Linked DNA regions of Homo sapiens: all the other regions are linked to region 1. The links come from fine-mapping of genetic effects on gene expression. A gene starts in region 1. Each other region holds a variant in brackets. All regions are shown on one strand. Distances are between the middles of the regions. Region 1 holds the start of FBXO31 (F-box protein 31). Region 2 overlaps FBXO31 (F-box protein 31). Region 3 overlaps FBXO31 (F-box protein 31).

The links. PIP is the estimated chance that this variant, and not a neighbour inherited with it, causes the effect.
Region 2: its variant is fine-mapped to the expression of FBXO31 in whole blood (TOPMed, PIP above 0.99).
Region 3: its variant is fine-mapped to the expression of FBXO31 in whole blood (TOPMed, PIP above 0.99).

The regions. Positions count from the first base shown.
Region 1 is chr16:87,382,577-87,385,076 of GRCh38, reverse strand. It overlaps FBXO31 (F-box protein 31), which reads left to right and starts at 1,301. Exons shown (of 9, transcript NM_024735.5): 1 at 1,301-1,672. The coding sequence starts at 1,333. It overlaps TRM-CAT6-1 (tRNA-Met (anticodon CAT) 6-1), which reads left to right and starts at 983; the gene lies at 983-1,055. LOC124903747 (a long non-coding RNA gene) reads right to left here and starts at 1,144. Exons shown (of 2, transcript XR_007065168.1): 1 at 881-1,144. RefSeq lists enhancers at 193-844, 845-1,498 and silencers at 906-1,565, 1,706-1,945.
Region 2 is chr16:87,339,566-87,342,065 of GRCh38, reverse strand. The region is part of intron 5 of FBXO31 (F-box protein 31); the gene reads left to right. Among named protein-coding and RNA genes, the nearest start is that of C16orf95-DT, 23 kb to the right of the region's middle. The variant A/G (reference allele first, on the strand shown) is at 1,481.
Region 3 is chr16:87,344,489-87,346,988 of GRCh38, reverse strand. All of the region lies in intron 3 of FBXO31 (F-box protein 31), which reads left to right. Among named protein-coding and RNA genes, the nearest start is that of C16orf95-DT, 28 kb to the right of the region's middle. RefSeq lists enhancers at 1-288, 289-844. The variant C/T (reference allele first, on the strand shown) is at 1,452.

The DNA of each region.
Region 1 (2,500 bases):
AAGTGCTAGAATTACAGGCGTGAGCCACTGCGCCTGGCCTGTGTGGTTTGTTTGTTTGTTTGTTTGAAGAGACAGGGTTTCACCATGTTGGTCAGGCGGGTCTCAAACTCCTGACCTCAGGTGATGCACCCTTCTCCGCCTCCCAAAGTGCTGGGATTACAGACGTGAGCCACCGCGCCCAGCCATTTGTGGCTATTTTTGTTTTTTGTTTGTTTTGGAGACAGGGTCACGCTGTGTTGCCCAGGCTGAAGTGCAGTGGCACCATCACGGGTCACTACAGCCTCGGCCTCCTGGGATCAAGCGATCCTCCCGTCTCAGCTTCTCTTTCTAAAATTTTGTTTTGTAGACAGGGTCTCGCTGTATTGCCCAGGCCGGTCTCGAGCTCCTGGCCTCGATTGATACTCCCGCCTGGGCCTCCAAGAGATGGGGTCCGAGGCGAGCCCACGGCGACGTGCGCGGCTGCTCAGGTGAGAGGACGCCTTCGCGGTCACCACCCGCGGACCTGGGAGACGACCCCGCTCAGCGGCCTCGGCGGAGCCCAGCTGGAGCAGGCGTGCGCGGCTCCCAGCAGCTGCAGGAACAGGCGCCCTTTGGGCGGCGCCGCATGGCAGGGCCTCCCTTTCCAGACCGGGCGCGCATCCCCGGATCTCTTGGGCCGCGCCGGCCGCCGCCCCTCCAAGCCCTCCCCGGGGCTTCCGCAGGGAGCTCGGGATCCCCGAAGGTCCCTGCAGAGCTCCGCAGCTCGGGCCTTTTGGTTACCATAAGGCGGAGACGATGGAACGCGCGTTGTTTCAATGGACAAAAGGGCTTCTAGGCGCCCTTTGGGGTTCTGGCTGCTGCCTCTGTATTTGGAGGCTGTAAGGCGCATCTTTCTACTCACCGGCCGGCGCGGCACAGTTTCGGGCGCCGGAAGCGGGACGCACGGGCGCGAGGGGCGACCCCTATCTCCACAAAAGCCGCGGCGCGAAGTGGTCGCCGAGCAGCCTCGTTAGCGCAGTAGGCAGCGCGTCAGTCTCATAATCTGAAGGTCGTGAGTTCGAGCCTCACACGGGGCAGTCTAACGTTTTGCACTCGGCATCACCACTTTCTTTTCTCATGCCCGTCACGGGCGGCGCCCTCACGCTGGAGGGGAGGGCAGCAGTGCGGGGTCTCTGAGGTCGCCGCCCCGCGGGGAGGGGGTGGCGCGGCCGGGGCGGAGCTCTACGTAGGGGCGGGGCTAGGCTCTCCAGGGGGCGTGGCGAGCTCTGCGGCGGGGGCGTGGCTCGGCGCTGGCGGGGCGGGGCCGCGCTGGAGCGTGCGCACAGGCGGCAGCAGTGGCCGTCACTGGGCGGCATGGCGGTGTGTGCTCGCCTTTGCGGCGTGGGCCCGTCGCGCGGATGTCGGCGCCGCCAGCAGCGCCGGGGCCCGGCCGAGACGGCGGCGGCCGACAGCGAGCCGGACACAGACCCCGAGGAGGAGCGCATCGAGGCTAGCGCCGGGGTCGGGGGCGGCTTGTGCGCGGGCCCCTCGCCGCCGCCCCCGCGCTGCTCGCTGCTGGAGCTGCCGCCCGAGCTGCTGGTGGAGATCTTCGCGTCGCTGCCGGGCACGGACCTACCCAGCTTGGCCCAGGTCTGCACGAAGTTCCGGCGCATCCTCCACACCGACACCATCTGGAGGAGGCGTTGCCGTGAGGGTGAGCGCGCGGGGGTGGCGGGGCCGGGAGGGGCGGGGGGTCCCTGCCAGGTGGAGGCCTCGGAGCTGGGAGTGGCGGGGGCGGTGGCCCCGGCCGGGGGCCACCAGTTGGGCGCGGGGCCCGGCGATGTGGTGTTTTGGGTGTGGGTGGGGAGCGGCCGCGGTGACACCACGTTGAGGGGGCCAGGGAGGTATTTGAGGCGGTTAGGGAGGGTCCGAGGGGTCCAAGAGAGGCAGACGGGGTAGGGAGGGGTTGAGGGCGTCAGGGAGGCATCGAAGAGGCCCTGACGCGGGGCACGGGACACCACGGGGCCGAGGCCGTGCCGGGAGCTGGGGCTGGGATCCCTCGAGGTCTGCGCGGGGCCTAAGCTGACGCCTGGGGGCCGCCTCCTCTGCCCCTGTCTTGAAGGCGAGCCGAGGGTGCCCCGCTGGCCCTGACCAGAGACGAGGTGAACTTGAAGAAATGGGAGCAGGCCGGGCGCGGTTTCACGCCTGTAATCTCAGCACTTAGGGAGGCCGAGGCGGGCGGGTCACCTGAGGTCAGGAGTTCGAGACCAGCCTGGTGAAGATGGTAAAACCCCGTCTCTACTTACAAAAATACAAAAATTAGCCGGGCGTGGTAGCGGGCGCCTGTAATCCCAGCTACTCGGGAGGGTGAGGCAGAAGAATGGCTTGAACCCGGGAGGCGGAGGTTGCACTGAGCCAACATCTGGGCCATTGCACTCCACCCTAGGCGACAGAGTGCGACTTGGTCTCAAACAACAGCAACAAAAAAAATTACGGGAGTAGGGGAAGCCCAGTGTCGGGGGCTCCTGATGGTGGGGGCGTA
Region 2 (2,500 bases), 43 kb after region 1:
TTAGCCAGGCATGCTACCATGCTACGGGGTTATGCCATGTTGCCCAGGCTGGTCACAAACTCCTGGGCTCAAGCCGTCTTCCCACCTTGACCTCCCAAAGTGCTGGGATTGCAGGTGTGAGCCATCGCGCGCGGCCAGGGTGTGCTTTTCTTAGCTAGTTTGAGTTGTGGTGGTTTCCCCATCAGCCAGAGGACTGCAGAGAAGGTTGAGATGAACCAAATGTCCTGTTTCTCGGAATTCTTTGCAAGTAAGTGACGTTCCTGTTTTCTTGAATAGATGGCATGTGAAGATGATCAGTAACGGAAATGTTTTAATTATGCTGTTATTTTAGATTTGATTTTATATACAGAAACACAACGTATGTGTGTGATTGCTGTGGTTCAATTTTTTTTTTTTTTTTTTTTTTTTTTGAGACGGAGTCTCGCTCTGTTGCCCAGGCTGGAGTGCAGTGACGTGATCTTGGCTCACTGCAACTTCCGCCTTCCCGGTTCAGGCAGTTCTACTGCCTCAGCCTCCTGAGGAGCTGGGCTTAGAGGCACCTGCCACCATGCCTGGCTAATTTTTGTATTTTTAGTAGAGATGGGGTTTCACCATGTTGGCCAGGCTGGTCTCGAACTCCTGACCTCAGGCGATCCACCCATCTCGGCCTCCCAAAGTGCCGGGATTACAGGTGTGAGCCACTGCTCCTGGCCTTATGGTTCACATTTAAGTGAAAAATGTCAACAGATTTTTCAAGAATAGAAACTCCTCAGCTGTTGAGCCCTTAAAAAAGAAAACCATATTACATTTCTGGTACTATATACTTTGGGATTAGGAAAAGTTTCTGTAAGCCTACTTCTGTGTGTGGGCTCACTGATTTTGAACTGGAGTAGTGTTTTTCCTGATTGTAAATATAACAACATGTGCTCCTTGTGGAAATGAGAGAAACACCCAGGAGTGAGGGTGAGAGGGAAGGTATTGCTGGAATCTTGATGGGGGGAGTTTATGTTTCCCTTATTCTGAGTGAGACCAGCCTAGTGTCTTGGGATCAGGAGCTCTCTGTGGTTTTATGAACTGTTTCATGAACTGTCTGGTCATAGCCTGTGCCTCTGTTTCTGTTTGGTGTTGGCGGGTTTCAAGTGGGTTTGTAGGAGCTTGTTAACTATTAGGAAATCGAAGCCCTTCCAGATAGGAGTTGCCAGGTTTTTTTCTTATTCCTTTTTTTTGTCTTTGGATTTCTCTTATGGTGTGTTTTCCATCCATGGAATTTTTTATTTTTAATGTTAATTTTTAAGAGAGAGGGTGTCTCACTTTGTTGCCCAGGCAGGTCTCAAACTCCTGGCTCGAGTGATCTTACCGCCTTGGCCTCCCAAAGTGCTGGGGCTACAGGCATGAGCCACCACGCCCAGCCGTATTTTTAATTTTTACATAAGCAGATGTATCCATCTTTCTTTAAAAGACTCTCAGTTTAGTGCCATCCTGAGATCTCTCCCTGAAGCAC[A/G]TATGTTTACAAATGAGCTCATGCTTTTATTTTTCTCTTGTGTCTGTGTCTGGTTCCGTTGGATCTATTCTGATGTGAAATGTAAGGCTTAGCCCCAGCCTTGGTTCTGTGCAGACCTGATCTGTTATCTCCACACTGGATGCGTGATAACCACACTTCCTACATCAATTTGTAGCGCTGCTTTTGTCCTAGGTTACCCTGTATACTTGGTTCATTTCTGGACTTGATACTCTGATCCATATGTCTGTCCACATGTCAGTACCACACTATTCTCATTCTTATAGTTTTTGTTTGTTTTTGAGATGTAGTCTCGCCCTGTCCCCCACACTGGAGTACAGTGGTATGATCTTGGCTCACTGCAACCTCCGCCTCCTGGGTTCAGGTGATTCTCCTGCCTCAGCCTCACTCCCAAGTAGCTGGTATTACAGGCGCCTGCCACCATGCCTGCCTAATTTTTATATTTTTAGCGGAGACAGGTTTTCCCCATGTTGGCCAGGTTGGTCTCGAACTCCTGACCTCAGGTGATCCGCCCACCTCGGCCTCCCAAAGTGCTGGGATTACAGGCGCGAGCCACCGCGCCCGGCCGAATTCTTGTAGTTTTATCGCTATGTTTTATTTTATTTATGGCTTAGAGATAGGGTCTCACTGTGTTGCCCAGGCTGGGCTCAAGTGATCCTCCTACCTCAGCCTCCCAAAGTGTTGGGATTATAGCTGTGAGCCATTGCACTGGCCTATCACTGTATTTTAATTGCCTGTATTCCTCTTCTATTTTGGAATGTTCCCGGCTCATCTTGTTTATTTGCTGTGTGAACTCTAGAAGCAGCTATTTCCCAGAAACATCCCCTTGCTGTCTCTTCTTGCAATTGGAATAGCAGCACGCTTACGGTCAGTGTATGGGGTGCTGCCGTTTGTGTGATGTCCACACCCCCATCCGACATACTCCCTCGGCTCGTCCCGCTTCTGAGCTCCCCCTCCGGGAGTTGACAGGGTGAGGGTGCCACTGTCCCAGGTAGGGCAGAG
Region 3 (2,500 bases), 38 kb after region 1:
TGCTTAGAGCAACACTTCGGCCTTGTGGCCCGTCCTTGGACTCTCTGGTCTGAGGGGGTGGCTTGTGAGGGCCTTTGCTTCCTGGACGCTGAGGCCCATCGCGCACATGTTGGCGGGGTCTGGAGCCCGCCCTCAGCCAGGTCCTTCCGTTCCTGGTCTTTGCCCCCCATGTTCCAGCCATGGTGCACTCTGACGTCTGTTTCCTTGGGTTCTGCTGTGGACCCGCTCTGACCACCCTGCCTCCCGCCCCCTGTGCCCTCCTACTGGAGCCTCTCGAACGGAAAGCCCTGCTCTGACTTTGTTGAGCTCTGGGCAGGTGGCTGGCCCCTGCTAGAAAGTGCTAGAACGTTGCAGGCGGAAGTCCAGGCTGGTGGCAGAGTCGTCTCCGTTTCCCTTCTCCCGGCAGCCTGCTTGCCGTTGGGGTCTGAGGACCCGTGAGGACATTTCTTTCCTGTTCGTTGGGTCTGCCATGGCAGTGCCTGTCTAGTCCTGGGTACTTGATCATGGCTGGAGATGGAAGTCTGGCTTTCTTTTTTATTAAATTCCCGTTTTTCGGTGAAGTTTTCCTTCTCTTTGTTAATCTTTTTGGGTACAGTAGTGAAAGTTTCTTTCGAGTCTAGCCCCCGCCTTTTCTCCTGATCTCCAGGCGTGTTGGATGCCCCCCACCCCTCACTGTGCGCCTGGGCACTTGCTGGGTGCCGTGGCCTGGTCTCCTCAAGAGGCCCTGGCCCCGGCCTGCGGGCAAAGTGGAGTCAGGGCACCTGCTCTGCGCAGGCCCGGGGTATGCGCGCGTCTCAGGCTTGGGGAAGCGTCCCGTTCTCATTCCGGGTCTCTCTCCTTCCCAGGACACAACCCTCTGTAGGGCCCAGCCGGAGGCCGTCCGTGACTCTATCCCCAGGCCCTGATTCCTCCTTTTCTCTTCCTGGCTTTGTGAGTCACGCTTCGCTTGGCCCCTTCTCCTCTCAGCAGCCACTCTGCTTCCCTCCTCCACCTCCCACCCCTCACTCAGGATTCCGCAGGTGCCTCGTGCAACTGCCTGTGTGCAGCATGGGGCTGTGTTCTCTGGTTGCCATCTTTGGCGTTTGGCGGCGGTAGTCCTGGCTCCTGTGTAGACCTGGTCTCCGTGTGTGCCTCTCCAGCCTGCAGGTGCCAGACATGGGCCTTCCTCCCCAGCCAGTGGTCAGTGGCCTCAGGAAGGGGGGAGAAGGCCCTGCCCCTCGCCTCTCAGCCTGTCCCTTCTCTTCAGGGCCTTGGGTCCTCGTCACTGGGCTACCTTCATTGCTCTCTGATGTGTTCAGTCTTTTTTTCTTTTTCTTGTTTTCTTTCTCCTGGAATTAGGAGAGAGTGTTCAGTCTTCGTGGCTGGTCTCAGCAGGAGGGCAGGTTTGATATGAGCTCTGGGGCCAGGGCCAGGAGCAGATGTCTGCTTGTAGTTTTAGTTTCTGTGTTTCT[C/T]GGTCACCTGCCAATTTATGTTGAAAAGTAGCTGCTCATTCAACACAGTGAAGTTGTCTGACTTTTCTTGGTATTTGCAGGTGTCCCTGTGGGGTGAGGAGGTGGTGCTCTGCGGGCTCTGCGTGGTGCCAGTGTCTGCATGGAGTCTGCATGGCTTCCGGTCCGCCCTCCCACCCTCTTCCCCTCCCTCCCTCCCACCCTGCCTCCCGCCCTCCCCGCACCCTCCTGCTGGAGCCTCTTGAACTTTCCGGAAAGCCCCGCCCTGACTTTGTTGAGCTCTGGGCAGGCAGCTGGCCCCTGAGGTGTCACTGTTGCCATCGTTCTTGCTGTGTTGAAAATCCGGTGCTGGTGTTGGGATTGTGCTCCGCTCCCTTTTGTGGGACCAGGGGCTGAGCCCAGCGAGGGCGGGTGTGTCTGTCTCCCCGTGGCCTCTGCACAGGTTCTTCCAGGCCTGGCATGCATGGCCCCTGGGCAGATGGCTCCTCTGTGGCTCTGGGCTTTGTTCCTCAGGTGGGGTTCGGGGCAGGGATGGGCTCTGCCCCCAGGTGGGGTTCGGGGCAGGGATGGGCTCTGCCCCCAGGTGGGGTTTGGGGCAGGGATGGGCTCTGCCCCCAGGTGGGGTTTGGGGAAGGGATGGGCGCTGCCGGAGGTGGGGTTTGGGGCAGGGATGGGTTTTGCCCCCAGGTGGGGTTTTCATCTGCTGGGAGCCGCTGTGGAGAAACCCGCTCTGCGTTTGTTGTGTTGGGCGTCGCGTGCTCCAGCCTTGCTTTTAGGATGTTTCCTCTGAGAGACCAGCCCGGCAGCTCACAGGGTGGGCAGATTGCTTTCCTTTCTTTTAGTGGAGGAAGGGTAATTGTTTTACTTACTGGCAGTGAGTAATAGAGTAAAAAAAAAAACCCCAAAAAACAAAAAGCAGTGGATAATTGGGGAAAGTGGAGTCTGTGAGAGAACAGCACCAGCTCACGCTTGACCCAGGCTCGTGAGCCACAGAAATGATGGAATTCTCTCCTTGGTTGCTGGAGCTGGCAGTCTCATGGGTCCCAGCTCTC